Linked DNA regions of Homo sapiens: all the other regions are linked to region 1. The links come from fine-mapping of genetic effects on gene expression. A gene starts in region 1. Each other region holds a variant in brackets. All regions are shown on one strand. Distances are between the middles of the regions. Region 1 holds the start of JAKMIP2 (janus kinase and microtubule interacting protein 2). Region 2 has its middle 21 kb from the start of JAKMIP2. Region 3 overlaps JAKMIP2 (janus kinase and microtubule interacting protein 2).

The links. PIP is the estimated chance that this variant, and not a neighbour inherited with it, causes the effect. A credible set is the group of variants that fine-mapping cannot tell apart.
Region 2: its variant is the best candidate, but not a certain one, in a credible set for the expression of JAKMIP2 in monocytes after LPS (Fairfax 2014, PIP 0.74).
Region 3: its variant is the best candidate, but not a certain one, in a credible set for the expression of JAKMIP2 in aorta (GTEx, PIP 0.74).

What each region holds. Positions count from the first base shown.
Region 1 is chr5:147,776,885-147,787,576 of GRCh38, reverse strand. JAKMIP2 (janus kinase and microtubule interacting protein 2) reads left to right here and starts at 4,849. Exons shown (of 22, transcript NM_001270941.2): 1 at 4,849-5,121.
Region 2 is chr5:147,798,818-147,809,509 of GRCh38, reverse strand. No RefSeq gene overlaps it. Among named protein-coding and RNA genes, the nearest start is that of JAKMIP2, 21 kb to the right of the region's middle. The variant G/A (reference allele first, on the strand shown) is at 5,379.
Region 3 is chr5:147,745,408-147,756,099 of GRCh38, reverse strand. All of the region lies in intron 1 of JAKMIP2 (janus kinase and microtubule interacting protein 2), which reads left to right. Among named protein-coding and RNA genes, the nearest start is that of JAKMIP2, 32 kb to the left of the region's middle. The variant A/G (reference allele first, on the strand shown) is at 4,711.

The sequences.
Region 1 (10,692 bases):
AGGTATTAGGATTAAACAACATTTAAGCAGCATGCCATATTCTTTCATATATCAGGACCTACATGCGTATTCCATATCACCTGCTTCCATTTCACCCCACAATCTCTCCAGTAATATCTTCCCTGGGATTCCAAACTACATTATACTTTTCTTTTATCTGCTGTCAGAGCTGCCTGATTTTCTCTATTGTAGTGCTCAACATAATTTATTTTAAGTAATTATGTAATCTCTCTTTCCTCTTAGACTATAAGCTCCATGAGGGGAGTTCTCATGCTACCTGACTCACAGCTACATCTCTGGTACCTAGTAACAGCACACAATAGAAACTAGCAATAAACATTTCTTAGATTAAGTAACATTAAATGAATGGATGAACTTTAACCTTGACCTCAAAGGCTTGCACTAAAATAAGAAAGACAAAGGAAAGAATATTTACCATTCACCGTGTTAAGTGTAGTTAGGATGTGTCACAGTACAATGCTAACCCTGGTATCAGTGAAGATCCCCTGAAGGAGTTGATGGATACATTTTAAAGGTTGAAGAATTGAGGCAACAAAGGAACCTCAAGAGGAAATGGACTGAGCAAACACAGAAGTGTCTACTTGTTATGCAAGGAGTCATCTGTAAGATCATTGGCCATAAGAGTGTAGAGTTCATAGCAGAGTTCTTCTAATATATTTGCTTACTGATACTATTGATAAAGGACATACAGTGAGGTCAGAATGAGATCCTTTATTCTTAGCAAACTCAAGAAGACCCTTACTGCTTACATTTAATGTTCTCTGTAAATGTATTACTATATTAATATAAATGTATACTATATTAATAATCCTTTATAAAGGAGGCAGGGGATAAACAACAGTCACTTATGAATGCCTTTGTTTTTGCCCCCTTTTTGGGGGAAATCAGGCTTTTGACTAAGTGTGACATAAGCGTCTCCAGAATTCCTCATTATCTGTTGACAGCTGGTCTGCAGCCATTAACAGCAAGCTTGTAGAATAACCCCAAGTGATCTGAGTGCTTTGGAAACATCCAGAAAAATGTGCTAGGCATAACCATAGTTAATAAAATTGTGTTTATAACCATATTGATATGACTTGTCATTTATTACGTGCCAGGTACTCCTTAACATTTTGCACACAAAAACTTCAAAAACGACTCAATGGGACCAAAGACTTCCAACAACCCTAGGAGTGAGTTTGGACTCACTTAACTCAGCCAAGCCTTCATATGAGATGGCAACCACAGCCAACTGTTAAACTACAACCTCATGAGAGGCTTTGAGCCAGAAGCTCTGAGCTAAGCCACTCCCAGATTTCTGCCCCACAAACACTATGAGATAATAAATGATGTTTCAAGGTGCAAACAAATCCCTCAGAACAATAATTCAGTGGGGTAGGTACTGCTATCATGTCACACAGATAAAGAAACTGAGCCACAGAGGAATAAAGCAACTTGTCCAAGGTCACTCAGAAAAGAAATGGTAAAGCCTGGACCCAATCCAGGTAGTCTGTCTCCAGAGCCCACACTTTGCAGCTTCCTCCCATTATGCTGTGGTATCTCCTGAAATTTTAATGCCACTTTTGGAGCCAAGACCCATACCCTGTACTTTTTCAGACATCCCACAGAATTCAGAAGTCAAAGTTGTAAAAGTCCCAGGAGAGGCAGACAGTTTGGTCATAATTAGTACTATTGGCCAAGAAGCTCTTAGAAGAAAATCAGGGTTTCCCAAAGAACACCATGCCTACCCACTGAGGACATGTTAGATGACTTCGAACATACGTGAGCAAACATGTTTACTTTCATAACTGTGTATTTTTAAAATCTGTGTCAGATAAACATTACGTTAATATGCATGTGTGCTAGATGAGGTAATTAGTATAATTATCTAAGTAATTATGAGAAATATCAACAATATATCTGAACAAATGATACTATATGTATTATTTTATTTTTTTATATATATATAAATTACAGAGCCATGATTCAATGCAGATAGTTATTCTTTTATTTATTTACTGGTCTATTCTTCAACAAATATTTATTGAGCACCTAATATGGCCCAGACACCATTCACAAAAAAACACAGAAATAAAAATCCCTACCCTCTCGTAGTTTACATTCTAATAGGGAATAATACAGTATATTACTAATATACAATACAGTACACATTATAGTATAGCATGCCACATTAAGCAATGTTATATTATCCCATAGTATATTATTCATATTAATTTTATATATAGTATATAGAAAAATAGAACATGGTATGAGAGGGGATGGTAATAGAGAGGTGAGAGTTTTAATGTTTCTTTTTAAATTAAAAATTATTATAAATAAAGTTGAAGTCTTTGTTTTACTAAAAAAATTAAGAATTTGTTTTCGTTTCCTTCATATGGGTCCATTATCTTTACCATGTCAATTTTCATTTATGTTTTGCTGAAGTCAGAGAAACATTTCATTAAAAAATGAATAAATAGCAAATCAAGTAAATCATAAATAATTAAAGCAAATAAGGGAAAACTATTATTAAATAATGATAACAGTGCTGCCTGGACGTGACCAAAAACAAATGAGTAAGTTGTATTTGAATGGTTAAACTGGATACTTCTTCAGATAGGAAACACCAAACTTTTCTCTTACCAATTGACTCTTGACCAGCTGTTTTATGTTGATGGGAGGAGAGGAAAAACTAGAATCACCCACCCCTAGACATTTGGCTCCTAGCGCTAAGGATGAAATGCTGTCCCGAGGACAGTGTGGAGGGTTCTGTCATCTAGTGTGTCATAACTTCTACAGCCTGCAGCTTCCTGGTCTGCTTACTTACAAGAACATCTCTGCAGAGAAAGCAGAAGATAAAATACAGGAATACAAAAAGAAGCGAGATGATCACATCCCATTCCTTTATGTTACACATTACACATAGGTGATGCTGACTTGGAAGTGTGTGCAGGTTGTGTGGCTGCTGAGACTTTGACAGAAGGCAGGGGACACTAGCTGCACAAAGGAGGTTGCAGGCTTTCCCACCAAGTGGATGGAAAGCCAGTGTCACGTGCTGGGGAACTGCTGCAACTCTTTCCTCATCACCTAGTTATCTTCAAGCCAGTTTTATTAGAAGAAGCCCCTGACATTAAGAGTGACACCATGCAGGAAAAAGTCTTCTCATGTTTTAATATTAGTTACTTACAAATGAGTAACAAGTAACTGTAGCTACATTTATTGAACATTTCCTATCTGCTAAAGACCGTACATTTTACACACGTCATCTAGTTTAATTTTTGTAATGACTCATGAGGTTCTGTGATTATTTCTTTTTACAGATGAAGAAACATAGATTTGAGGAAGTTAATAAATATGTTCCAGATTATACCTATAGTAAATACTGGCGCTAGGAATGGAGCCTAGATCGTCTGACTCTGGAACTTGTGTTAAACCCATTTGAACCTGTAAATAACTCTGTGGATTAAGAACAAAGATTATTTCCATTTTATGGAGGAGTGGCAGAAAAGTGTGGTGGTTAGGAGAGCAAATGTAAGTGTTAGAAGAGTCCATTTTGATTCCGGTTCTGTCGTTTATCAGTTGTGAATTTGGGAAATGTATCTAACTCCTCTGAGATTTACAATGTCCTCAAATATCAAGATGTAGAGAACACTTAATCTCTTAGGGCCTCTCTGTCTTTGCCATCATCATCATGGTTATTACGTACTTTGGATTTTCTCATCTTAATTTTTTCTCCTACCTGAAATTGCCATGTTATTCCCCTTAAACCCTTAGATTAAGAGATGGCTGCAATGTACTACTATGCTGCTAATAGTAAATATTTATTGTACACTTACTATATGCCAAGTGCTTTTAGTGCATTATCTCATTCAATCTTTACAACCCCTCCACGAGATAAATACTGGTGTCATCTATAATTTATAGTTAGAAACAGAACTCGCCTAGAACTGGACATTGCTGATTTCACTTCCCCCTTTTCCTGCCCACCACCCTGACTGCCAACTGACTTCGGAACTCCAAAAAGGCATCCATGAAAACGACAGGAATTGCCTGCAGGAAATTGAATGCTCCAGGAGTTTGACACTAAAAAGATTGGGAACTGTCCACCAACTTGTGCTACCGAGAATAGTGGTTGTTGAAAGGAATTTCGGTCTCTATCCAAACTTACTTTTCCTCAGGGATGTGTCAATTACCTCCAAGTCCTGTTCAGAAGGGTAGCTGGAAAAACAGTGAAACCAAGTAACTCACCTGAGAACAAGCCGGGAGTAGTGCAAAGGAATCAACCAGACTCTTAATTTATTACAAAGTCCAGCCACTCCGTTTGCTTTCTAAAAACCTTGTTGCCTGGTATTGAGTAAAAGATGCTATAAAGGACGAACACGTTTGGAAGTAATAATAATCTGCTATTATGCGACATAATTTTCTCCACATTTGTTGTTATTTTTCTGATAATAAATTTCATACTTTTTATTGGAAAACCACAGAAAATGCAAAAAATAGCTAAGCCGTTGGTATGTTTCTATCTAGATTTCAATTAAATTTTAATTATTCTCTCCCCGTGCCTAGCCCCCCTTGCCCCATTTTTAAAAAGACCTGGAGTTCAGGGTAGGAGACATCAAGAGCATCCTAGAGGGCAGCAGCACAAATTCACTCCCCTCCAGACCCTGCAGCTTGCTTCGCCCATCTCCCCTCCCCCTGAGCTTGGTCGCTTATCATTGGTCATTGCCATGGCAACCAGCAGCTGCCGGGCCAGCAGCCTCTACCGCAGCAGGGGTGGGGCACTGGGGGAGGGGGAGAGAGAGAGGAGGAGCCAGAGGAGGTGTCTGCTGCAAGTTCCTGGCTGCTTCCGAGCTCACCCCATCCTCCGAGAGGGAGGAGGCCCAACTGGTGATGCTGCTGCTGCTGCTGCTGCCGCCGCCGCCGCCTCTATTGCTGATACTCTAGTGGGGCTGGAAGGGTGGTTCCTATTCGCACCATCGCCAACCAGAGACAGAGGGAAAAAAAAAACCGGCAGCCACTGCTGATGTTGGGTTCGGAGGCTGCATCCGACTCGGTCACAAGGAAAATGGATTCAGTTTGCATCTCTCCCTCCTTTAAACAGCTTCTCCGGGTCTCAGCATGGTGAGTAGGAAACAGTAGGGCTCCCTTCTTGGTTTAGAGTGTTCTTATTTGACCTGTGTATACATTTCTGGCCTGAACTTGAACAATGACTCCCGTGCCTCAGACTAGAAGGGGGAGATGTGGAGACAGAGATGAGGATGGAGGGAGAGGAAGCTTGCCAGGAAGAGAGAAGTGAGAAGACAACCTCTTGTGTTTAAAAAAAAAAAATGGTGTTCTGATTTTATCTCTAACTGGCTCAGAATGCAGACTGAGCCACTTGGTGCCTTTTTTCCTAAGCTTAGCAACAGCATCAGGGGTTGGAAAAAGAGCTAACAACAAGAAGAGGGTGTTATTGAAAGGAATCATTTCATTTGCAGCTCTCACATACAGGGTTGGGCCTTCTTCAGAAATACATTTGGTGTCTCATAAGCTTACCAGACTCATTATAAGGTGGTTTTGCTTATTTTATTGATTGCTTAGAAAAAGTGGCCCCAGAATTTGACATTTTATTTTATATTCTAATATACTCTTGTTGAGAAATCATTTGCAAGACCCAGTTTTATTTTATACGTAGATTTGACTGTGAACTTACACATGTATATCTTATGGATATACAGATCATATATACACATGTCACTTAGCATTTATATTGCATTTATGAAGCATATTTATATGTAGGGTGTGCTTTGCAACCATTTTTATGGGTTACATATGTCCTTGCATGCCTGGAAGTAATTGCATGTTTTTGAAACTATGCTTCTGGTTTATATTATTATTCATTGGCTTTATTTGGATTAATGTGAAATTTACTCTGGTTATTGTCCCTTAGTTTCATTGTGACCGATTGGAACAGATGCCTATCGTTTGATCTGTGTCATAGAACTAGATGCAAATTTGTAGCCTGCCTCTTTATTTTTAATTGGGTTTGTGGGGGATGATATTGAGGACTCTGAATTTACAATGATGGGAATGGGAGGCGGTTTGTGGTATTATTTTGTGTCTAGCATCTTACCAAATCAATGTTGAAGCAAATCAGTTTTCTTGAAATGCCACCCCAACCTTTTCATGTTTGTGCCTTGTGTCCCAGGAAGCACAGCTAAGCTGGAAGGTGAAATGTATTCATTTTATTTAATAGTGCTGCTATCTGATGTTCATTCCTTCAGTATCCAGGAACCATTTCACAGTTCTCTCAGATGTTGTATTAAGGGTCTCCTTCTGTAAATAATTAAGTAGGAAAGTAGGATTGTTTTGAAAATCTAGGTATTCCCAAGCACCCTAGCCCAGCCGTTTCCAAATTAGTCTGCTTATACAATGAAATGAAACCAGAGAGTGAGCAAAGCGAGCAGGAGAATGTGTGGCTTGTAGCTGAAATGGGGGTCTATTGTAATTTACAAATGCTTACTGGGATCTGCTTGACCTTTTATTATGTCAAGGCTTTAAGGCAGTTCAGGAGACTAAAGATGCGTGAGATGAGGAGGTTCCATTCCCGCCCAGGATAATGGATTTCATTGAATTAAAGCCAGAAAAAATTATGTAGGTAAAGTGTATTAGTAATATTACATTTACCACATGGGCTATTATAGTTTTATCCATTATTCTCTTCTCTAACAATATCATTGTCAGTACAGACATTTTTTACAATGTAAAATAACAATTGTTTGGGTCTTTAGTCTTGCATCTGATTCTACATACACCCCCCACATTTATAATTTTCACATGTATTTGAACCAGGTTTATAGTTTAATTTTGCTGAGAATAATTGTTCTATTTGGTTTATACATGAGAAGGGCCCTTGGTGACTCAATTGTGCATGTGCTCATAGCATGTTATATATTATAGATCCATAGCTTTGTAAACTCATGCTACTTTGTGCCTAATTTTAACAACTATATGAAGTAGGGCAAGGAAAGAGGTACTGGGCTTGTATGTTATAACAAATTGTATAACACATTGCATCCTGAATCTTTTAGTGATAACACTTGACTTCCAAAAATTAAAATGTTAGATATGCCTATAGCACACTTAAAAAATTAAGATTTGTACTAGTTGACCCCATTTCATGCAATGAAAGCAGATATCCTGGGGCTTTGTTTTTGTTTCTTTTTTTTGAGTTTTCATTTGGAGGTGGTTTTATAGGCAAAGTTGGTACAGTTTGAACAGAGGCAAATCCCTTAGGCCATGTGCTTAAAACTCCTTGTAGATAGCCTGTTTCAGCTATGTGTCAGCTATTACCCTGATAGAAATACAGGTCTAGCTTTTGACCCCACTATTTAAGACAATTATATGGCCTTTGCTAAGGGGCCATAGAAAAGTGAAGTGTGTTTCAAGCACTAGAAGTTGAACTCTCTGAGGAAAGATTTTTAAAAGCTAGGATCATTTCATTTAGAGAAGAGAAAAATGAAATATGGCAATCGTTTGTTTCAGATAAGCTAAGCATGGGGCATAAGCACAGGACATTGCTTATTGCTATTTTTTGGAACCTCAAATGTAGTCAATGGGCTTCAACTTTATGAGGAATTATGAAGATGAGAAATATGCAAATGTAGAAGTTCCTCATAGTAAGTGTGAGTAGTCAACTGGCTAATCAGATAAAGCAATGAATTCTTCTCTCATCAAAACCTCCAAAAGTATGACCTAGATATGCATTTGTCTAGGATGTACTAGATTTCCTTCTCAAGAACTTCTCTTGCTTTTTCTAGAGTGAGTCATTTATTTGAGAGAGTACATTAGTTGTTTAAGATAAGACACTTCTAGGTTATAACAGTAAGACTCCATTTTGTAGTTGACTTCTAAATTACAGGTTCTAGGTATTTGTAAAGAAATCAGCTGATCATCTTCTTAGAGAAATTTACATGTAATCCTGCCAGAATTCAGGAAACTGAACATTTACCTGTTCATAAGAGCCCTTCTTTCTCAGCAGCTTTATGGAGTATGATGTCAAATACCTATATTAAAATTATTTCATATTGTATAGTTAATTTTGAAAAATGTACTGTGTTATTTAATGGGGTCTTTGTACAAAGTAATTCAAGGGCCATCAAGTTGTTTTTTTTAAAAAAACAAATTATATGAAAGGTATATACAAATTAATGTTTAAATGTGCTGTTTAACAAACTAATCTTCCACTCAAATGCTATCTTAAAAATGTCATTCATGTTAGAATATTAAAGTTAAATATTTTGATTGGTATGTAAGTCTTTAGTAAAACTTGTTTTAATTAAGACACACTAATTAATTTCTCACTTTGTAATAGGATGTTTCTTATTTCAAGTGACATCAGAACATATTTTGATTTTATGTGCCTGCTACAAGTCCGCTTCAGGATGACTTAGGCAATATTTGGAGAGTCTAACAGTTTTCTACATTTCTTTTTGGTTCATGAAAAGTCAATGCTTTGTTTCTCATGGTTGGAGCTTACTGTGGAAGTTTTAACATAAATAACGCAATGATGGTCTTTTACTGAAAGACATAAATTAGGTTTATACTTGGTTGTTACTCTGTGAAGTGTGTTGCAATTCCCTGTTTACACATTCCACTATTATTCTATCAAGGGAAAATGTGCTTTCAAGCAGGATAAATTAATAAATTGACTAACAACTATTTGTAGAGGTTTTATATGACTAGCAGCATTTGCGTATGCTAGCAAGAAAGAATTTCCTTGGAGAATATAAGATATACATCCATGAAACAGTTAATGTTGAAAACAATATAGTTGTAATTAGTACCATCACTTCACCTTATATTATTACAAGTTTTTATGATTCTGTCATTTTTCCATTCTTTTTCATTTTATATTCTATCAATTTCAGTTTATATTCTATCATTTCAATTCTATCATTATCAGCAAAGCTAGTGTCGTAATAATTATTTAAAATAAGTGGAAACAGATTCAGGGAGGTTAGACTTGTCCAAATTTGTGTTTGGTGAGTGGTGTAACAGGCTGGATCCCTAGTCTCATGAGCACAAACTACAACAGTAGAAAGGTAGCAAATTATCTTACCAATTTGAATTTTAATTGGTAAGATAATTTTAATTCAATTTACTAATCTGTGTTGTGTGGCTCATTTTATTTGAATATTTCAGGTACCAAAATTTGTTCTTTGGCCATATTTAATTGCCAAATACACTAACTATGTGCTTAGGGTATCAGGCAAAAAAACAAAAAACAAAAACAAAGCAAAACAAAACAAAAAAAGGCTCACACACACAAAAAGCATTTTAGAGAAAATCTAGGCTTCTTGATATATCAGAAAAACGTAGAAGCATTTGTTTGGGTGAAAATCAGAACTTTGTTGGGCTAATATGCACTTATTTTATAGATAAATATTGTTTTTGTTTTTAATGACATAGAGGTTGGGAGGTGACCATTTTTTTCCGTGTTTAGGATCTGATTAAAATTCCTGTAGGTCCTGAATCTTGAAAAAAGTTATGCCACCTCCTACCTATATGTCCTAATTATCTCTCCACCTACACATTCTTAAAAGTAAAAATGATATTGTCATAAAATAAGTGTGCATCAGTTCAACGACTTTCTGATATTTTCTCTGAACAAATTCTCCTACATTTTTCTGAACTATCAAAAATATTTATTTGTTTTTCAAATATTCTAATTTTCTGGTGTCTCTTTTTCTTTATTAATGCCCTAGGCACATACTGGTGTAAGTATTGGGTAATTCAGCCCTGGCCAAATAGAAAATCATGGCGTCTGAACTGTATTCTACATTTGGAAAAAGTGTCCTTTATAATTAATTAGCTTGCAGTAAAAATGGGACCTGTCACACTAAAAAAATTATTCTTTAAATCATTATTCATTACTACAAGTAAATTTTGTTGCTTAAAGTTTTTTTTATATTTAAAAATAACACATCCTCATTATGGAAAAATGATAATACAGAAATGTGTAAAAGGAAGATGAGAACCGCTCATAAGCCTACCATCAAGAAATCATTACTGTTAGCATTTTGGAATATTTCCTTTTAGATCTTTTTGTATATGCACATAGAGACACATGCAGACACAGTTTCATACATGGACCATACTGTATGCATTGTTTTATATTGCTTCTGCTTTATGTATAGTGGCCATCTATCCGTGTCAACAAATGTGTCTCTACTGAATTTTAAATTTCCGCATGCATTTTTCTTGACGATTCAAGCTGTTTTTCCCCCACTTGAGAGTGTTCACACTTTACTTTTAAATACTTCTTATGATACAGATAGATCCTGCTTGATTTAAAGCAGTCGTGAGTCAGGCATTATATTCAGGAAATATGAACTCTGTTAACCTGACCTGCCACTGCATCTTACAATGGGTATTAAATTAACCTTGGTCATTCTTTGTCTGCTGATAATGAATGAGGTCTGAATCCAAGGCAGTGAAATCCCTGTTTGAGTCACTAGGAGTTTCACCAGGTGCATATATCAGCAACAATTAGAAAACAAAAACAAAAACACATCTGTTTCAGATTCATGTTAGTTTTCCCCAGTGTTGTAGTGGTATGTCGTGTAGTTTTATTTTTTAATTTTTAATTTATTATTATTATGATTTTTGAGATAGGGTCTCACTCTGTTGCCCTGGCTGGAATGCAGTGGC
Region 2 (10,692 bases), 22 kb before region 1:
GATTTGGATGTAGTGGGTAGCTAAGAGGAAGACAAGAATGGAGAATTATTGCTAGGTTTTTGGCTAGATCATATCAATTAAGGAATAAATTGAGGGTACAAGAGAGGCAATGAATATTTAATTTTTATTAAAGTGTGTTATTTTGAGTGGTGATGCATAGCAGTTAATAGTAGTTAATCGGCTTTTTGCTTGAGACTCAGGGGAGAGAACACAACTAGAGATATACATTTAGGAATCTTTAGCATATAGATGGTATTGAAAGCCATGGAAGAACATGATCTCTGCAGCGAGTTTAGGTAAAGATGAGAGCCTCGGTCCTATAGACAAGGAAAATACATTGTACTGATGTAAAAAGAGTCACCAGTTTAATGTGAGGAAAATAAAGAGAATATGAAGTTGTGAAATACTATATATATATATAGTATATATATATAGACCTGAGGGATGTTTCAGCAAGTAAAGTATTAATGACAGAGACAAGAGCAATTTTGGAGAAATCAAACCAAAAAGCTAGAATGGCATGAGCTGAAGAGTGAATGGAAGGTGAAGGGGTAGAGACAGTGAGTAAAGATAACTATTTCAAGAAATCTACTGTGACAGGGAGTGGAGAAATGGATCTGCATCTCCAGGGAAATGTGGAGTCAATGGAGGACTTTGGAACTTTCCAAAGCATGTTTTTGAACTCATATTGGGCAAAGATGGAGAAATTGATGATGCAAGAAGGTAGGGGATAATTGTAGATGTAATATGACCAGGTTTGATGACTGGAAAGTTTAATCTCCCTAGAAAAGGTTTCACATTACTTTTTGTTGTTGTTCGTTTTTTGTTTTTTGTTTTTAGTTTTTTGTTTTTGTTTTTGTTTTTGTTTTTTTTAGACAGTCTCAATCTGTTGCCCAGACTGGAGTGCAATGGTGCAATCATGGCTCAGTGTAACCTCCACCTCCCAGGTTCAAGAGATTCTGCTGCCTCAGCCTCCTGAGTAGCTGAGATTACAGGCCCCCATCCACCACACCCAGCCAATTTTTGTTTTTTAGTAGAGACAGGGTTTCACCATGTTGGCCAGGCTGGTCTCAAACTCCTAACCTCAGGTGATCCACCCGCCTTGGCCTCCCAAAGTGCTGAGATTATAGGCATGAGCCACCATGCCCAGCCTCATGTTATTTTTTTTTTTTTTTTTTATAAAAAAGCTTTTGGAAGTGACACTGTGAGCATGCGCTGAAGCAGTGGATGCTACCTGAGCAGATGGCTGGGACTCCAACAGCACCTACTCCTCTTGCTCTGATGCTCCTCCCTCAAGCATACACCTGTGGCCTCACCTGAAATTCTTTAATTTCAGTTGACAGAGAAAAAAATAAATGGGTTGTGATTACAAATGGCTTTGCATATTGTGCTGGTGTAAGGCTAGAAATGCATGATGCAGAATTACAGCCCTATTAAAAGCTTTTGTGTTATAAAATGAAGAAAAGAGAGCCTCCCCTTTAGAATATCTTCTAGAAGTTTGATTGTTTTTTGTAATTTTTTCTGGATAGAGTTGGCTCAAGTTACTAATATATACTACTTCATGGGCTAGCCAGATCATCAGACACTTGGAAAGAACACAACTGAAGATTTAGTAACAAGGAGATCTGGGGAGAAAGTATATCAACTTTCTCAGAATGAGTATAGGATATAAGGATATTTGTGTTCCATGTGAATACTCACTCAAGAGTACCCACTGAAGAGGATGTTCTCAGTAATCACATGGAAAATGCTATGCTCTGCAGATGTCAGCCAGTCTCTTTCCCCAAGCACTCTAGCAGTCACTCAATCTGATGAGGTTAAAAATGTTCATGGCAGTAGGGATGAAAGCTATGCATTGGCTCAACAACATGGATTTCACCAGGGCTGACCTGGCTACCACCACTGCTGAATATCCACCTGACCATAGCTGATGCTGAGTCCTTCTACTAATAGTAGCATCATTCCTCAGGGGACTAGGCAGCTACTTGGTGTTAGGTTGATTTTACTAGACCCCTTTCCTAATGGTAGGATAAGTAACTTATCATCACTAAAAAACATAGTTATTTTGAAAATGGATTTCCCCTTTCCTGCACACAGTGCCTTCACAGATACTCTTGCAAAGGACTTATTTGGAATCTTCATATTCCACAGAACATTGATGCTTTATTAGTTTCTTATTGTTGCTGTAAAAAATTACCACACACTTAAGGGCATTAAACAATACTATTTTATTCAGTTACAGTTCTGGAGGTCAGAAGTCTAAAATTATTTCATTGAACTAAAGTCAATGTCAGCAGTACTGGTTTCTAGTTTCTACTGGAGCTGAGGGGAGAATCTGTCACCTTGCCTGTTTCAGTTTCTAGTGGCCCATCAATGTTCTTTGGCTTGCTACCCCTGTTTCCATCTTCAAGTTCATCATTCCAGCCTCTACTTCTGTCATCATGTCACCTTCTCCTCTCCCGTAGTGGTACCTCCCTCTGACCCCCTCTTATAAGAACACTTGTGACCAGGCGCAGTGGCTCACGCCTGTAATCCCAGCACTTTGGGAGGCTAAAGCAGGCAGATTGTGTGAGCCCAGGAGTTCAAGACCAGCCTGGGCAACATGGTGAAACCCTATCTCTATGAAAAATATGAAAATTAGCCGGGCGTGGCAGCGTGTGCCTGTAGTCTCGGCTACTCAGGAAACTAAGATCGGAGGATCGCTGGAGGCCAGAAGGTGGAGGCTGCAGTGAGCCGAGATAGTGCCACTGCACTCCAGCCTGGGTGACAGAGCAAGACCCTGTCTCAAAAAAATAAAAATAAAAAAAATAAGAACACTTGTATCATTGGGACCACACAGACAATCCAGTATATTCTCCTCATCTCAAGATTCTTAACTGCATATGCAAAATCCCTTTTGCTATATAATATAGTACATTTACAGGTTTCAGGGATTACTAGGTAGACATATTGGGGCATCATTGTTCAGCCTACCACAGCTAGTGACCAATGAATGTATTCCATAGAAAATAAAGTGGGTCAATGGGCTGACACTCATTAAATTTACTGATCTTGCCATGTGCTCCATTATCCAGAAACACTCAGCTCTGCGGAGCATTAGAATGGCCTACTGAAGATGTAGTCATACTACTTTCTGACCGAAAACATCCCCCAACCAGCCTGGAAAACATAGTGGGGCCCCTGTCTCTACAAAAATGAAAAAACATAGTCGGGCATGGTGGTGCATGCCTGTAGCCCCAACTACTTGGGAGGCTGGGCGAGAGGATCACTTTAACCCAGGAGGTTGAGGCTACAGTGAGCCATGTGTGTTCCACTGCACTCCAGCCTGGGTGACAGGGCAAGACCCTATCTCAAAACAAACAAACAAATAAACAAACAAAGACATCCTTCAAAGATGTGATGCTGTCCCAAAGAATGTGGTATATTCTTTGAACCACCAGTCAAAATATGATGCTATTTTTTTTAATAATTGCCAGATTTCACAGTTACAGGAATCAGGGGTTAGAAGTATACTCAATGACCAGCTTGAAAAATTTCAATTTCCTGGCCCTATAAATTTAAACTCTGCTTCTTTTAAGGTCTTAATTCTGAAAGGAGAGCACTTCTACCACATGACATGATGGTTTCATCGATCTAAAAGATAAGACCATCACCTGGCCTTTTGAGGAATCCTCATGTCACTGAAGCAACAGCCAAGGTGAGGTAACTGATCTCTATTAAGGGAAAATACAATGTTCTCCACAATGGGACATGTTGACAACATATAGAACCCAAGAGATTCTCTGAAGTGCTTCCAGTAATAAAAGTTAATGTAAAACTATAGCAACTCAACCAAAAGGACTACTAGGGGCTCAGACTCTTCAAGAACTAAAGTTTGAATTACACCACTAAGTAAATAATATCAACCTGAGGAGGACCTGCTTGAGATTAAAGGAAACATGAGGCTGGGTGCATTGACTCATGCCTGTAATCCCAGACATTGGGAGGCCAAGGCAGGAAGATGGCTTGAACACATGAGTTCAAGACAAGCCTGGGCAACATGGCAAGACCCCTGTCTCTACAGAAATTTAAAAATATAGCCAGGCATGGTGGTGCATGCTTGTGGTGTCAGCAACTCGAGGGACTGGGGGGGAGGATCGCTTGAAACCAGCAGGTTGCGGTTACAGTGAGCTGTGTTGTTCACACCACTGCACTCTAGCCTGGGCCACAGAGTGAGACTCTATCGTTAAAAAAAAAAAAAAAAGGAAGCATAGAAAAGCAGAAGAGGAAATTGCAACTATCACCAGAAGCTGATGATCTGTTAACAACCAGTCATAGAAATGATGACTGCAGTTACACATGATTTATTCCTCGTCTGTTATGCAATATTTGTGTATGTTAATCAGCTGTTTCCTTTTTCGTCTTTCCCTTTCTTATCCTATTTTACATATAAAGTGGGATGATGGCTATTGTGCAATTTAGTGTTTAAATTACAGAATATCCAGAGTGACAGCTTTTCTGTTTGTATGCAAAATTGTTAATTATGTTAGGTAAAAGCACCATATTGTTGTGATTGTTGTTGAATGAAATTTAAATAAGGGTACAAGGGAGGCAAATGGACACTGTATAAGCAGCAGGTGAACTATGTTGACTCTATGTCTATTAATTGCCAGCTCTACCCCTACTCTGTAATGCTCTTTTCTGAATAACTGGCAGAAATGGGAGCCTGAAAACCATTTTTTCCAGGTTTCATTGACAGTGGAGTCTGAGAGAATATAGTATAAAAGAAGAGGGAAACCATTTTATTTTCTATTATTAATGGTACATCAAGATGTGGCAGCAACATCAGTAGAAGTGTAATCTCCTGACTTTCTGCTCAGCTGCAATGGTATGAATCCAACTGAAGAAGTAGCAGCAATGCATTCAGCAGCAACAGCAGGATCATAAACTCCTGCATTTCCTGCTCAGCTGCAGTGGTGTGGATCCAGCTGTAAAAGCAGCAGTCATGCATTCAGCCGCAGCAGCAGGAAGATAAACTCCTAACTTTCCTGCTCAGTTGCCCGGATGCAGTTTCAGCATCAATGGCAGCACCTCCAGCAGACAGAGGGCAAGGGCAGCTAGGCTTCAGTCCAGGTTCAATCGCAGCTTCCAGTGTCTTTATAACACTCTTCTTTTTTGTGTTCTTTCTGTGTTTCTAAGAGCACTGTAACCAATTGTCTGCATTAAATCCCTCTTTGCTTGAAATATTTAGAATGACCTCTGATTTCTGGGCTTGGCACTAACTGACATAGATATGAATCTCTCATTTATATAATGTGTAATAAAACTATTTTCCAAGGTTGTTTGCTCTTTCTAGTCACAATTTTCCACGCTAGACTGGAATATTGTTTGGGAAATTG[G/A]GCTGACCATCTCACCCAGAGAAACAGTGATTCACAATGAAAAAGCAGTCATGTGATCTTAGGCAAGTTAAAATTACCCTTCAGGGTAAGTGTCCTTAAAAGTGAAATAATGAATATAAGCTTGTCCAAAGAATTAAAATAATTATGTAAACTGAAGTATGCAAATTATTTGCTTATGAAATTAAATGGTTTAAGAAAAAAAGAATCAATAGAAGTGAGGCTGTCTGACTGCTATAAGGGATTGGATGTTTCTATCTATTCTCTTCTTTTGTCCCTCTTCTCTAACATCTCTCTTTCTCTCTCTCTCATTCACTTTCTCATTCTCCCTCCCCTACTCTCTAATGAGACCTCTATTATTCTAGAGTATTTTGCACCTTTTTTTCTACTCATTCTCCCTCCCTGTATTATGGCTCCATTCCCAGAGAGACATAGTTCAGTATCTCCCTCCCATGGTCAAGGTCACTGACAATGTAGTCCCATTATCCCAACATCTGAATCTACAACTAAAACTTAGTTTACCAGACATTATAAGCATGATCTGTATTAGTCTGTTTTCAGACTGCTGACAAAAACATACAGAAGACTGGGAAGAAAAAGAGGTTTAATTGGATTTACAGTTCCACATGGCTAGGGAGGCCTCAGAATCATGGCAGGAGGTGAAAGGCCCTTCTTACATGCCAGTGGCAAGAGAAAAATGAGGAAGAAGAAAAGTGGAAACCTCTGGTAAACCCATCAGATCTTGTGAGACTTATTCACTATCATGAGAATAGCACAGGAAATACTGGCCCCCGTGATTCAATTACCTTCCCCTGAGTCCCTCCCACAACACGTGGGAATTCTGTGAGATACAATTCAATTTGGTTTCGGTGAGGACACAGCCAAACCATATCATTATCTGTGCACATTCCCCTGCCATGGAAAGAATAGAAGTTCCAAAGTCTATAGAACTGCAATTCAAATGTAATTCAATTAACTTGGAATTATCACATATCATTTAGTTATCTGGGAATTTAAGTACCAGGGATAGGTACTTAAATACAAATCTGGGAAGCTCTGAAGGGGATGGTTAGGCAAGTTATTGGTCCAAGCTGAGGGTGAGGGGTCAGAATCCTATCTGAAGATGAAGCTACTGTGTTGACGGATCCTAGAAAAGGAGCACCACTCCCCTTCTTTGCTCTGCTGAATCAGAATCCTCTTAAGGAAAGAAAAAAAAGGTTGAAAAATTAAAGAATGTGGTGGAACTGTGAGATAGTACAAAGAGGGGATGCTAAGTCTGGAGAAGGAAGAAGAATGCCAATGATGCCTTCTCCTCATCCAGAGACTCCCTAACCCTGGCTGTTACTGCTAATGGGTTGTCCTTTGTGACTCCAAAGGCATAGAGTGCCAAGATATTCAACCCTGCAGCAGCCTCCTCTATGGGACTACTGCTGATCATAAGCATAACTCAGCAAAATGTCCCAATCATAGGGGATCCCTGGATGAACTGCTCCTTATGTTCAACAGATAAAATTCTACATACAGTGGAATGGGAGAAAGGGCCACTGCCCATTAAAAAAGAAAGCACAGCCATCAACAGAGGCAAGGATGTGGTACTGGGAACTGATGTCTATTGGCATCTCCTGCTTATACCATAGAATGGTGATATAACAGAGCTTCTCAAGGGCCGGAACAGAGGAACACGTAAGGCATGGGGAAGCAAGCTTAAGCACTGGGGCAAGTCATCTTCAAGGAAGATATTGTTCTCAAAGATATCATTCCTGTGGTACAGTTCTCATTCATTTCACATCTCTATTCCCAACACACTTCCAAAGACTGCCCCAGTGTAACATATGCAGTTACTTCTCTGCGTAAGTCCTGCTTTTCCCTATCGAGTCTTACCACGTAAAGCTACAGTTCTATTGCAAGAGAGGGAAGCACATCTCTACAGATTGTGTCTTTAAGAACTAACATAAGTATTTCACCCATCTGACTAGGAAGGAGGAGGCTTATCAAGTGATAGTTTTATAAATCTAGATAGAATTTTTCTCTCAAACATTCAGAGTCAAAGGCCAGAAGTTACTTACCTGATGTAAAGTACTTTCAATTAAACATACTGGAGACAGACTTGTATCAATGACATTAAGTTATGAATGATAAAAGAGAAATAATTCAACATCTTCTAAGGAACATGTGTGAAATACTCCCTTGGAGTGTCACCAAGCCAGGCTAGGACAGAGAGTTAGGCCTCCAAACCCCTGAGCAGCACTTGCTTTCTTGAGATAGCATTATCTGGGGATCAGTTTCAGGTGGGAGGCAAAAAGTTAAGGAAGAGTTTGCCACTATGGCAGAATTAGTTTAGCAGTGGGAAGGTCTACGTTTTGGTCTCAAGAGAGGAAATTGTGAATTTACCTAGAAAGGGTGAAGTTTTACCCAGCAGATAACTCTGCCCTTTCCTGTAAATTTACCTAGATGGGGTGAAGTTTACCCAGCAGATAACACTGCCCTTTCCACTATGACCCATGTAACCTGGACAGCCCTGTATTGCCCAACACAAAGTTACTCTTAGAACATAGAAGACCTAGGCAGGAAGACCTGGTGGTGTTTATGATGCCCACTGTGGCCTTGACACCAGCTAACCAGAATAAGAGAATTTTAGGGACCACTCCTTTTTCTTTCTTTGAAAAGGAAAACAGAAAATTGAGCATCAATAGAAACATCAGCCTCTGTCCTTCCTGACTTCTGATGTCTACCCTTGGACATCCATGAAATCCCAAGCTGTCTAATTCCCCTTGGAAATGAAAAAGTAGAGAGGGGTATACACTTAAGTTTCTTCGGCATGATGCCTCCACCTTATAGGAACCGGTTAAACATCCCCAGGACAATCATCAGCAATTGCCTTTGGATACGTAAGGATTCCTAGGATCAGTTGCTCCCCCTGAACTTGAAGAGATCAATTTATGTGTAAGAGAATGAAAAGCACATATATAGGGCCATCAAGGACAACATTGGCCAGAAAATGTAAGGTAAGGGCCACAGTAAAACAAAGACGCATTCAGGTAGGATTTCCCGGGCTCACATCATACTCACATCAAGGTCAAGGCTATTTTTAGTGTTCCCTTCCCTTCATCTCAGCTAAGGTCTGTAATTCTCACTGCCAAGTCCCAGGTTCATTTAGGCATGCACTTGATGCCGCTTCTAAATCCTTATCTTTACCTGTTTATCTTGCTGTTTTCTCAGTAGTTGTGGCTGGATGTATCTGCTGTCCCAGGCAGACCAAGTTTAAGACATGTACATTGGTCTCCCAGATCAACTTAATTTAAATGGGTATGTCCTCCTTGCTACACACAAGAGGATTTTGAATTGATAATCGAGGAAAACTGGAGTCACTTCTCCTAGGATAGAACTCTGCATTTATTTGCTCAAAGCAACTGGTAAAGAATGATGGATGAGCCAAGGTTTTCATTTCACCATATGGAATCAAAGGAGTTTGCATTCCTTGTTGCTATGTCTCTCAGTCTGTAGTCAACGGAAAATATATTTCATTAGAACAAGAGGGAGCTATTTAAGTTACCTCTTTTATGTTACTATTTATGTTAGATCATAAATCAATCTAGTCTTTGATATAAAATCTAGTATTTCTAAAGCCATTACGTAAATACAAAATTACCAATTTTCAGTGCTTAAACCAGGGATGATGCATCTATACTAAAGCATATGAGAATTTTCTTTTTGTCAAAAATACTGGTTCTCAGGCCTTTGAGATTACTTTAAATATCAATGGGAGACTTTGACTAAAAGGCTTCTTTTTAAAGATTTGCATAATGTTGTCTGGATGGTATTGCAGAACCTGGATCCTGCAATCTGCCCCTACCTTTAACTTGTTCCCACCGTGTTTGCTTGCCTTGACCTACTGGTTAGTCCTGCTCTCCCTGCCATTTTCACTGGGATTTTTCTTCCTATGTGCTTATTTGTAGGAAACTCTTCTCCATTTCAGACAACATATTCTAAATGCTCTTTACTGCACTATACTTGAAGAATGCTCCTTTTAGCATGGACTGGTCTAAAAATTATATCAGTGCCAATGCAGTAAGATTTATAAGAGGATGGAAAATGCAGAGTTTGGCTCTTTTTAAATTCTTTTATGTAAGTAGGCTCTACAAGACATTTGAACTATACTTTACTGAAAATAATTACATCAAAATTTGGTCAACAATGCAAATTGTTGCTGGACCAGGGCCAGGGCTAAGATGATACCCCAGGCATTCAAAAACTCAGCTGAGTACTCCTGTCACATATGAACCATGAAGAAGGACCTGCAGAGTCAAAGGGAGAAAACATACATCTCATCTCCTATCTCTTCTAGTGTCTGCTTTACTTATTTACTCTTAACTGTGTGCATTTTCTTTATTCAGTCATTTATTGGTTGGCTTTATCCTCTTGGGGGAGTTAACCAATTACAGAAACAAAACTTTTATTTTATCTGATTAGAATCAGATTATGCATTTTGGTAGAAATACCTCAGAAGTGATGCTGTGTCCTTTTGAGTGCATGATGTTAAGGAGACACAGGGCCAGGCGTGGTGGCTCACGCCTGTAATCTCAGCACTTTGGGAGGCTGAGGCAGGCAGATCACCTGAGGTCGGGAGTTCAAGGCCATCCGGGCCAACATGGGGAGACCCCGTCTTTACTAAAAATACAAAAATTAGCCTAGTGTGGTGGCATGCACCTGTAGTCCCAGCTACTCAGGAGGCTAAGGCAGGAAAATCACTTATCACTTGAACCCAGGAGGCAGAGATTGCAGTGAGCCAAGTTCATGCCACTGCACTCCAGCCTGGGCGACAGAGTTAGATTCTGTCAAAACAAACAAACAAACAAACAAACAAAAACAAAAAAACAAAGAGAGAGAGATATATAGGATGTCTGTTCATTCTACTCTTGGTGATGTTAACTTTGATCACTTGATTAGAGAGATACAGTAGCCCCCTCTATCCCCTAATCTGGGGGATATGTTCCAACAGCCTCAGTGGATGCCTAATGCTGCAGAAAGTACTGAACCCTATATATGGGCATACTTTAGTGAAGTTACAGGTTTGGTCCAGACCACAATAAAGTGAATATCAGAATAAAGCAAGTCACAGGAATTTTTTTTGTTTCCCAGTGCGTATAAAAGTTATGTTTACATTGTACTGCAGTCTATTAAGTGTGCAATAGCATTATGCCTTAAAAAAACAATGCGCATAGCTTAATTTAAAATATTTTGTTGCTAAAAAATGCTAATGATCATCTGAGCATTCAGGAAGTCATAATTGTTTGCTTGCCTCGATACTGATGCTGCT
Region 3 (10,692 bases), 31 kb after region 1:
TTGAAAAGAATGTAAATATTCCTATTGGTCCCTTCCCTTTGCACTGATATGCTCATTTATTTCTCATGCTTTCACATGGATATTTGCAAATAACCTGTGTTTCTTTTTGTTAGAGCAATACAGGATATACATATATATGCAGAATAAATTAAATGATTTCAATTTTCATTGTGGCTCTTCAAAGGGTGTGTGTTTAATTGACTTATATCCTAGTATCATGGAATGCTCAGAAACCCCTAGTCATTCATTATTTGTGTATGGACTAGTTACTTTCAAAAAAGAGCTTGGGTCATTGGCATGGACCAATAGTCCCAACTATGCCGGTGGCTGAGGTGGGAGGATTGCTTGAGGTCAGGAGTTCACTATGAAATGCACTATGATTGCTCCTGTGAGTAGCAACTGCACTCCAGCCTAGGCAACATAACGAGATCCTATCTCTAAAAAAAATTAAAAATAAAAGTTAATCTGCCTTGGTTAGTTTTCACCAATTAACAAATACAAATTACAGAGGTACTTGGAAGAATGGTGCCTAACATCAAATTAAACGTTATTTTTAACATCCGTGTATCACTATTGTGGGTGTTGCTATTATGTCTGAACGCAAAAGTATCTGAGACAGGCATCAATCAATTTAGAAAGTTTATTTTGCTGAGATTAAGGATGAGCCCGTGACACAGCCTCAGGAGGTCCTGATGAAGTGCGCCCAAAGTAGTTGGGGTACGGCTTGGTTTTATTCATTTTAGGGAGACAGGAGACATCATTTTATACATTTTAGGGAGACATGAGACATCAATCAATATGTATAAGATATACATTGGTTCAGTCCCAAAAGGGGGGACATCCTAATCTTCTTTGTCCTCACTGCCAGTATCCTTATTTAAGACTGTTGTCTTTTGTCTGGATTGTTTCAATAACCTCCTAGTAGATTTGCCAGCATTTAATTTCTCCAAAGCTTTGTTCAAAACTCTTGGATTTGTCTAATGAGTTCATTCTTGATCTTGTTATTCTGATTCTTACAAGCATCCCAAAAGTCCTTGATACCTATGGAATAACGCTCCAACTCTATAGTCATAAAATCTGTACCCAGTTTACTTTGCAAGCCTTACACTGAAATATTCACAGCTGCTCTTCATGTGCACACCTACCCCCAAAGCTCCTTGATGCAAGCTCTCTTCCACTCATAGTGGCCTAATCTGTAGTCCTCAAACCACAATATTTTATGTCCACATGTTGCTCACCCTACCTTGTGATAGCATTTACTGTTTAAAAGCCCAGGCTTTCAAGTTATATAGACTTGGAATAGAATATAAGTTTTCACAATAATTAGCTATGAGGCCCTGGATAAATTACTTCACCTTTCTGGGCCTCACTTTCTTAATATGAAAAGTGGAGACTGAAAACCCAATCTTAATTGGGTTGTGAGGAATGAGTTATGAGTGCAATAATACCTCACTCACGGTAAACTTTTAGTAGCTGTTTGCTTGTATCACCCAAAATGCAACTCTTATGACTTGAATTCTGAAACTCTAGTCATCCTTAAAGTGAGAGCTGAGTTGTAACCTTTCCTCTGTAGCTTTCCTTAAGCTAGACTTCTCTCAGCTCTGCCACCATGTCCTCATTGTTAATCATCCTTTTATCTTAGTTCCCAGGGTATTTTGTAATCCTTCTATTATAGCATGTGTCTCGATATATTATTTTTATGGGTCTTCCTCCTCCACTGGAAAGATAGTGCTCCTGGGCAGAGGCAATGGCTTATTTGTTTTGTATCCTGGGGCCCAGGACACATCCTGGCATATAATAGTCATTCATTAATTGTTCACCAGATTGAATTTGTTGGACACTTCAAACATCCTCTTGCTTTAAATGTTTCTCCTTGTTACAAATTAGAGGTTGTTGTGCTGAAAATTGAAAAGATAAGCCAACGATAGCATTTTAATCTCCCTTTTATGAAATTATTTAAGTTGGAACCATCAGTAGAGTAACCTGTCACCATAAACCAAAGGTAGTAACAAGAATTGAATCTTTAAAAAGGGGGAGGAGAAGCATTTAATATCTTTAATTCTAAAATCACATGGTTTGTTGGCACAGTGATGTCAGTGATGTCAGTGTAGTTGCATCATTGCGTTAGGAGGACTACAGGAATTCATTAGCCACTCAGACAATATGATTTGGAGTTTCACTCTGGTCATCATCTGAAAATGGCTACAGTGTTCCAGACCAAAAAGTAAGTGCCTAGTGGAACCTTTAGCTATTATAAGAAACATCTTTAGCAAAAAAAAAAAAAAAATACATTCTGCTGAGCACATAGGCACAATGTGTTACACCAGACTCACCAATAATATTTACTAAGGGGTAGATTAGCTTTTCTACCACAAGGAAGATGGTTAGTACACTGAGGAATGTGTGAGTGGTAGTTGCTAAGACCGAATTCTTTAATGCCTGATCTAGAACAATGAGCAGGCATTAAAGAATTTATTTTATGTTTAATGGAGAAACTTCATATTTATCAAATAAACTGGATTTTCAATTTCTCTTGAAAAATCAGACTTGACCATATCGTGTGGTTGCATTTGCACAGAGCAACGCTCGGTGGCAGCTGAGGAGCCATTGCTCACTTAAGGAAGGTCATTGCCTTGCCAGTCACCATTATTCAGTACATGGTCCCCTTCACACATTCATATTTCCTGACTCAACCCTGTAGGAAAGGCATCTGTGCTTTTCATCCTTTCCTCTAAGCCTCAGTTTCTAAATCTGTATGTAGAATTAATATAGCAGCAACTAGCTTGAGGAACTCTTGAAAAGATTAAGTAATGTAACTTGTATTAAGTGCCTTACTCAGTTCCTGATGCCATTGTAAGTTCTCAGTAACCGGTTACTATTTCTTCACTTCAAAACCAATATTTATTGAGCTTCTACTATGAGTCAGGTGCTGGGGTAGAGACGGAAATCTAATTTTGAGCAATTAGAGGCATGGTCCCTGCCTTGAGAGTTTGTGGTTTAGCATCCAAGGAAGTGCCAGCTATAATGCCATTGGTCACATGGCTTTTGTTTGTGTTATAGAATGAGGAGGAGATAAAAGTCATTGGGTTGCTTTGCAATTTCTTGTGCTGGACTGAGAAAATAACAACAGAGAGGCCCTATAAAAAGGCATTTTAAACTGAACATTCTCCAGCAGTCCTTCATTTTCACTCTTCCCACAAAGCTGCCCCTCCCCCAGAACTCCCCATCTCAGCAGATGGCCTTCTTATCCACTCAGTTGTTCTAGCCAAAAAGCTAGAAATATTTTGAGTCCTCTCAATCCTCTCCTCTATCTCCCTTGATGTTTAATTCACCAGCAAATTTAGTTGTCTCTTCTTGCAAATCATGTCCTAGATCTCTCCATCTCCCCATATCTATAGTGCCACCCCGCACCATGGGCCAAGCCATCATCACCACCATCACTTCCACCAAGGATAACTGCACAGCCTCCTGCTGCCATGCAACCAACTTTTCCTCCAAAGGCCCAGTAGCAAGTATTTTAGGTTTTGTGGGCCTTAAGGTAGGTCTCTGTCACAACCACTTAACTCTCCTGTTGTAGCACAAAAGCAGCTATAGACAATATTTAAATGACTGGACATAGCTGTGTCCCAGTCAAACTATTTACAAAAGTAGGCTGCAGGCTGGATTTGGCCTGTGGGTCATTGTATTATAGTCAGGGTGATCCTTGTTAAAATGAAATATGGTCATGTCACTCACTTAACTCTAACCCCTGCAATGATTTCTCAGGCACTAAGTTTACAGTACTCAGTTTGGTCTGCATGGCCTAGTTGATCCAGCACCCCTTTTGGCCCCAGGCACTCCATACTTCATCCAGATTTTTAAACAAAACGAGGTAATTCCCTTGACAGGGCCTCTGTACTAATTGCCTGGAATTCGCCTTCCCCATCTCAGCATGACTGATTCCTCCTTATGTATCAGATGTCATCCCTGAGAGAAGCCTTCCTGATCCCAATGCAGACTCATTCCAAATGACAACTTACAGTCATCCATTCCTCTATTTTATGTTCTTTTCTGTAGTACTCCCCATCATCAGAAAGTCTCTTATTTATTAATTTGGTTGCTTTTATATGGTAGTCTGTATTTTCATACTAGTTTATAAGCTGACGGCAGACTTTGGCTATTGCTTGACTGCTCTAACCCAGATCCTCAAAAATACTTTTTGGAAGGGAGAATAAACAGATGAGTACTCTCTATCAGTGTAAGCCACAGCACCACTTAAGCCTGCAGTCCTACAGAACCTCATCCATCAGGGCAGGCCACACCTTTATGCCACCCTCCTTGCCCAAATGTGCCAAGTGTGGCTGGCCTAAGGAGATGGAATTGTAAAAACTTTTTCGACCAGAAAGAATTTCAGAAGGAAAAAGAGTAAAATTCCTCTAACAAAGAGCCTGTGTTATTGCTGAGCGCACACTGCTTTTGGCTGTGTAGCTGGTCTTTGTCTCCCTGTGGCCCTGTGCCCTTGCTTAATGTCTAGAGGGAGGTACTTATGGAAGAGACTCCTAATAAAGACACTTTACAAAACAAGGGTTATGTGAAGGGGGTGGGGGGAGGGGGAGTAATTAATTTTTCTTTTTGTTTAAAGTAGGAAAGCCAAACTACATCTCCCAAACACACCACTTGACTTGAAAGAGATACAAAAGTCCTTTCTCTTAAAAGTCATCCATGTCGGGC[A/G]TGCTGGCTCACGCCTGAAATCCCAGCACGTTGGGAGGCGGAGGAGGGCGGATCACGAGGTCAGGAGATGGAGACCATCCTGGCTAACATGGTGAAACCCCATCTCCACTAAAAATACAAAAAAAAAAAAAAACAACAACAAAAAAACAACTTAGCCGGGCCTGGCGGCACGAGCCTATAATCCCAGCTGCTTGGGAGGCTGAGGTAGGAGAATCACTTGAATCCGGTAGGCGGAGCTTGTAGTGAGTGGAGATCATGCCACTGCACTCCAGCCTGGGCGACAGGGTGAGACTCCGTCTCAAAAAAAAAAAAAAAGTCATTCTGACTTTTAACAGGGAAAATATAACCATCACTTGTATAGGTGGATGGGAAAGAATTTAATACAAATGTTAGTGGATGATTCTACTTGGGCTGCCGCAATAGAAAACCACAGACTGGGTGGCTTAAATAGCAGAATTTTTTTCTCAACAGTTCTGTAGATTGGAAGTCCGATGTCGAGGTAATTACAGGGTTGGTTTCTGGTGAGGCCTTTCTTGCTGGCTTGCCAATGGCCTCCTCTCTGTGCACTAGGAGAGAGATCTCTGGTGTTTCTTCCTCTCTTGATAAGGATACCAATATTATCAGACTAGAATCCCACTCTCAAGACCTTCCTTAACCTTCATTACCTTCTTATCTCCAAATACAGCCACGTTGGGATCGGGGTTAAGGCTTCAACGTATAAATTTTGGGAAAACACAGTGCAGTTCATAATAGAAACCTTCAAATGCTGCAATTTCATGTAATATAGGTTTCTTTTGTGTGTGTGTGTGTGTGTGTGTGTGTGTGTGTATTTTCTGGCACCATGAGTGATATCTTCCTTGGGAAATGGGTGTGCTTACTCATTTTTTCTTATTGGCCTTCAGACTTTACATCAGTCTTAATCTTGCAGCTCTTAACAAATTAGAGATGAGAGTCTCTAAATAAGTGAGTATAACATGTGATCTCTCCATGAGACTGGAGAACAAAGGAAAACCCTCCCCATGGGGCCTTTATCACACATCTTAACAACACAAAGGCGTCATATGAGGATTGTGTCCCTTGGGTTAAGAACGCAGCTGTTTACCACAAAATGGCCTCCTTCCTGCCATTTCTCACATGCTTGGCCCTTTCAGAGCACCTTTCCCAAGTGAGTGTTTTATTTTCTCTTCCCTCATCTTCACTTAAGTTTATTTCGCAATGGTTGTGATCTTTCCTGAGGAAGATATTAGATCTAGACGTGTAATTGCTGGGATGATAAGGAGCTATTCTGTAATTATTTGACTTTTTAAAAATCAGTTTTTATTTATGAAGCAAACTTGCTGAGTGCTAACCATGTATGAGTCATGATCCCAAGTAGTTTTCATGAATATTCTTTTAATCCTATCAACAAACCTAAAAGGGAAATATTATTCTTATCTTCTATTTATAGATGGGGAAACTGGTTTGGAATGGATAAGTCAAACCAACAAACAAAAACATTTATAAGTATGGGGCAAGATAATCAGCTCAATCCAATTTCAGGGCTGAGCTTCTTAACTATTGCAACAGTTTTTTCTCATTCATTGTTCATCCATAAAGGAACTGGACTCAAGCCTCCTGCCATTATAATTTAAAGTGTTAGCATATATGCAAAATATTTTTATGCACCATTTGATTCTTTATAATCCAACTTCCAATGTGACATTGAATTCAGTCCAACATTTATTAGGCATCCACTACTTGGAAGACATTTCTAGGTAGGCGATGGTGTATAGGGCAGGGTCCTACTCTTCAGGTGACTGGCAGGTTAGCAGGAGTGTGTGATATATGCACAACTCACAGAGTGTCAAGTGACACAGAAGTAGCTACCACTAAGAGAACTGGAAGAAAAGAAGAGTAAGGGAATAGCTTCCACTAGGCAGGATGTTGTTTTAGGTAAGAGCCAGGGTTTGACTTCTAGCTCTGTCACATGTAAGCTGTGTGACTGAACAAGTTTCTCTAAAGCAAAGTTTCTTCCTCTATAAAATAAGGATTAAAAAGGGTTCCTTTTGCTCATTCTGCTGTAAGAATCAAGTAGGATAATGCATGAGTAGTGTTGAGTACTATGCCTGGCACATAGTAAATATTCAATAAATGTTAGTGAATTTTTTTTTTTTGCTGTTATTGTTTAGCCCTAAGGAAAATTCCTAGATCAAAAAGACAACCAGTTTGTCTATATTGCAGAAAATAAGAGGCTTCAAATTGACAAATTTATATGTGTGTTCTAGATGTCACTTATCAGCCATGTAACTTAGGACATGTTTTCAACCTTTTTGAGCTTCAATTTTCTCATCTCTTAAGTGGGAATGAAGCGGCATCATTCATCTGAGGTAATAACCGAGGTTCGTTGTCTCATGCCAAGGAAACCAACAATGCAGACACACGAAGAGTGAGGTTAAGAGTGGAGGTTTAATAGGCAAAAGAAAGAGAAAACCTCTGTCTTCCAGAGAGAGGAGTCCCAAGCAGGTCTTCTGGTTCACAGTGAAATGCAAGGGGTTTTATGGATGAGCTTGGGGAGGTGGTGTCTGATTTAGATAGGGCACAAAAGATTGGTCAGACCAAGTGTGCTATTTGCATAAGGTATGAAAAACTGGTTAGGGCTAGGTGTGCCATTTGCATGGCCACCCCCACCCTAAGCTTTTATTTTGCAGATGGGTTCTCTACCTGGCCAGTGCCAGGTTGCCTGTTTCTTTATTGTACATGTGGTGACAAAGAAAAGGAAAGACAGCATCTCCATGTTGAACATACCTGGCCCTCGGGTAGCCCTTTTCTATTGGCACAGCTGCCAGTATTCATCTGTGCAAACTTCCAGCTTGCTTATCTATGTCTGCAGCTCAATTTTTCAAGCTGCTCTTTGTTAGAAAAGAAATGATTTGGGGCTGCTTTTTGTTAAAAGGGAAATTCTGCCGAGGATTCTTTTACCCTCGCTATCTACCTAAATAATTTCCTTCTACCTCCTGTATCAGGAATAATGATGACATCTACCTTGTAGCATATTGTGAGGTACTATAATAACAGCATCAGGTATTTATAATTAGAATTGGCCAGAAACTGTTCTGTGGGATTTATATATATATATTATTTCACATATTCCTCATAGTAACTCTATTTGGTATTAGCTGTATTATCATTATCCACATTTCACACGTGAAGACACAGAATGTCAATAAACATCCAAGCTCATACAGCCAACAAGAAGTAGAGCCAGGATTTGAACCCTGGCATTCTGTACTCTACAACATTATGTTATACTTTTATCATTTTGTGAGATAAGTCTATGAAACCTTTAGCAGAGTGCTCGGAATAGTCTCAGCATTCAGTCATTCAGTCAATGTTCCCAATTATTGTTATCAATAATAAAGTATGGAAAAATGGCCCCTCAGAACAGGCAGCAGATGAGATGCACCTTGAAGAATATATGCCAGCAAGTCAATAGTTAAGCAACCAAAGTTTTGAGAGGATTTTTGTGTTTACACATTCTAGACAAAGTAGATAGCTTATGCAAAGATACAAAGGCAGGAAAACACAGGGCATATAGGAGAGAACAGTGGGAGTTCAATTTGGCTAGAGCATAGCATGAGGGAAGTAGTCTGGAACAATAAGCCTAAAAAAGGTAGGCTGAGGTGAAATGCTGGGGCAGTTTAAATAAAATGTATGGAATCTGGTGATTCCTTACATTCTTACTGATTCTGAGTGGACAGTCTCTCAGGTAGTAGTTTTGATGGCACCTGGAAGATGGTCTGCGGGACACAAGAGCCTGGGAAGGAGAAGACTAGTAGCCAGCTATGGAATTTGTTTATGTGACTTATAATGGGGTCCTGAGGTAGACCAAGTGGCCCTGAGACTGCATCAGATCAGAGTCAGCTTCTTTCTATTTAGCTATATCTTTGACAGTTACCAATTGTTATTGCTTGAATCCTCATGTTTTCAGGCCCAGCTGTGCCCGTGTTGTAATTTTTAATCTTTAACTGGTTTAATTTACCCTCAGAACAGACACTCTTGCTGGCTAGGTAGAAGTGACGTTTTAAGCATTTTTCTTGTAGGGATGTTTATATGTGTGATGATTTCCACCTTTATCCCCCACTGAGAAATGAAGAGCAGATCATTTCTGTGGGTTGATTGCCTGGCCAAGCTCAGTGGAATGGCTTAGTACTGGTCAGCCTTCTCTGGTTGCACCGTGGCACTGCCAAAGTTTAAAGGAATCTTGGTTTTTCAAAAAAGCTCCTCATGACTCATTGGGTTAAAAATAATAATAATAATAAAGCACTATGGTATGTGGGAGAGTGGGTGAAAGACATTCGAGCTTACCTGATCATCAGTAAGCATTGGACATACAAACAGCTTTCTCTGCATGGAGGGTTGGTCCCAGAATTTAGGAGAAAAATTCACTCTCCTGCCTTAAAGCACTAACTTATGGGCACTGGCTTATTTGGTGACTTCGTTTTTTAATTAGCAGAATAAATAGCTTAACAATGTTCAAAGTTATAGGAATCATTAAACAAACTGTGTTAAAGGAAACCAGTGGACTACTAGGTCACCAATTATAAAGTTAAATATGTGAATAGTAGTAATGTTTCCAATGTTACATATATGAGAATTTCTGAGTAATAACCATTTTTAGAAAAATGAAAGTGTATATTTTAATACTAATGAATGAATGAGGATACTGTATAAAAATAGAGGAAAACACAAAGCTGTATAATTGATTGATGTTTTGGTGAGTATTTAATTCTACAGTAATGGAACAAGCTATGTTTCTGGAGTACTTTCCATGTTTCAGACTCCATGATAAATGATATATAAATAGAAAATTTTATAAATTATATATTTTATTTTACATATTTGCTATTTATGTTTTGTATATTATATTTACATATATTCATTTGTTTATATATAAACTCTAGTTTATAATGCATAAGGGAACCTAAAGTCCCAGAAGGGCAATTGGCCACAGAAAATTGTTCTGAAGTTCTATCTTTGTGTTAACTCTATTCCCGTCTTTCGTCCATGAGTACAACCCAGGTCATCGAGCTTTTTCTGGGAGAGAATTTGATGAGGGAATACCTCTACTTGGCATGTCTGAATGAAAGGCCTTTAAGCATTTCTGGAAGTATGGTAAAGCCCTGCTATGCCAGGATAGCAGGGATGCTCAAAAGAATCTTAAATATACCTATTTCCTCTGGCTGAGTCTGATGCATGCAAAAGTCCAGTTCTTTCTAACTGCATATTTACTTTTGGATTTTTCCAACTTGGATCCTATTCTCTCAAAATTACAAACTTTGATCTCATCTTCCCAGAATTCAGTTGTCTGGAAACTTCTATCTTCAACACCACTAATAATCAGAAACAATAATAATTGTAAATACTTGTGTATATCAGTTAAGTGTAATTATATATAATATTGTACTCCTATTAAACCATGACATCTATTCTATTACATTATATAAATACACTTATCTTCACCAAAATTCTGTGTATAATTTTATGGATGAAGAATCTGAGACTCAGAGAGTCTCTGACAAAGTAAAAGTACAAAAATAAATTAACTAAAGTCCAAACATTGAAGTTAATGCCATGTATCATGTATTCATAATAACATTGTCCTAATGATGTCTGTGTCTTTTTCTAAGACACAGTCAACAAAGTTAGTTCTTTAATCTTTAATCTCCCAAGAAATAAGAAAGTACGGAGCAGATGAGAGTCTATTCTTTGCAGGCTCAGTGGCAGATGTGATAAATATAATTGCTGACAACAAAAGAGGAGAGTACAAAAGGCCATAAAAATCAAATATCAGAACCAAAACCTCCATGGTGGTCTGGAGTGATTAGGGCAGGATGGGTATCTTTGTCCTCCTGGATGAATCCTAAGACAATCCTAGGTAAGTGAAACCAAAGACAATCACTAGTTCTTACAGTGATGATACAGAGATAGCAAGTCAAGATTTTG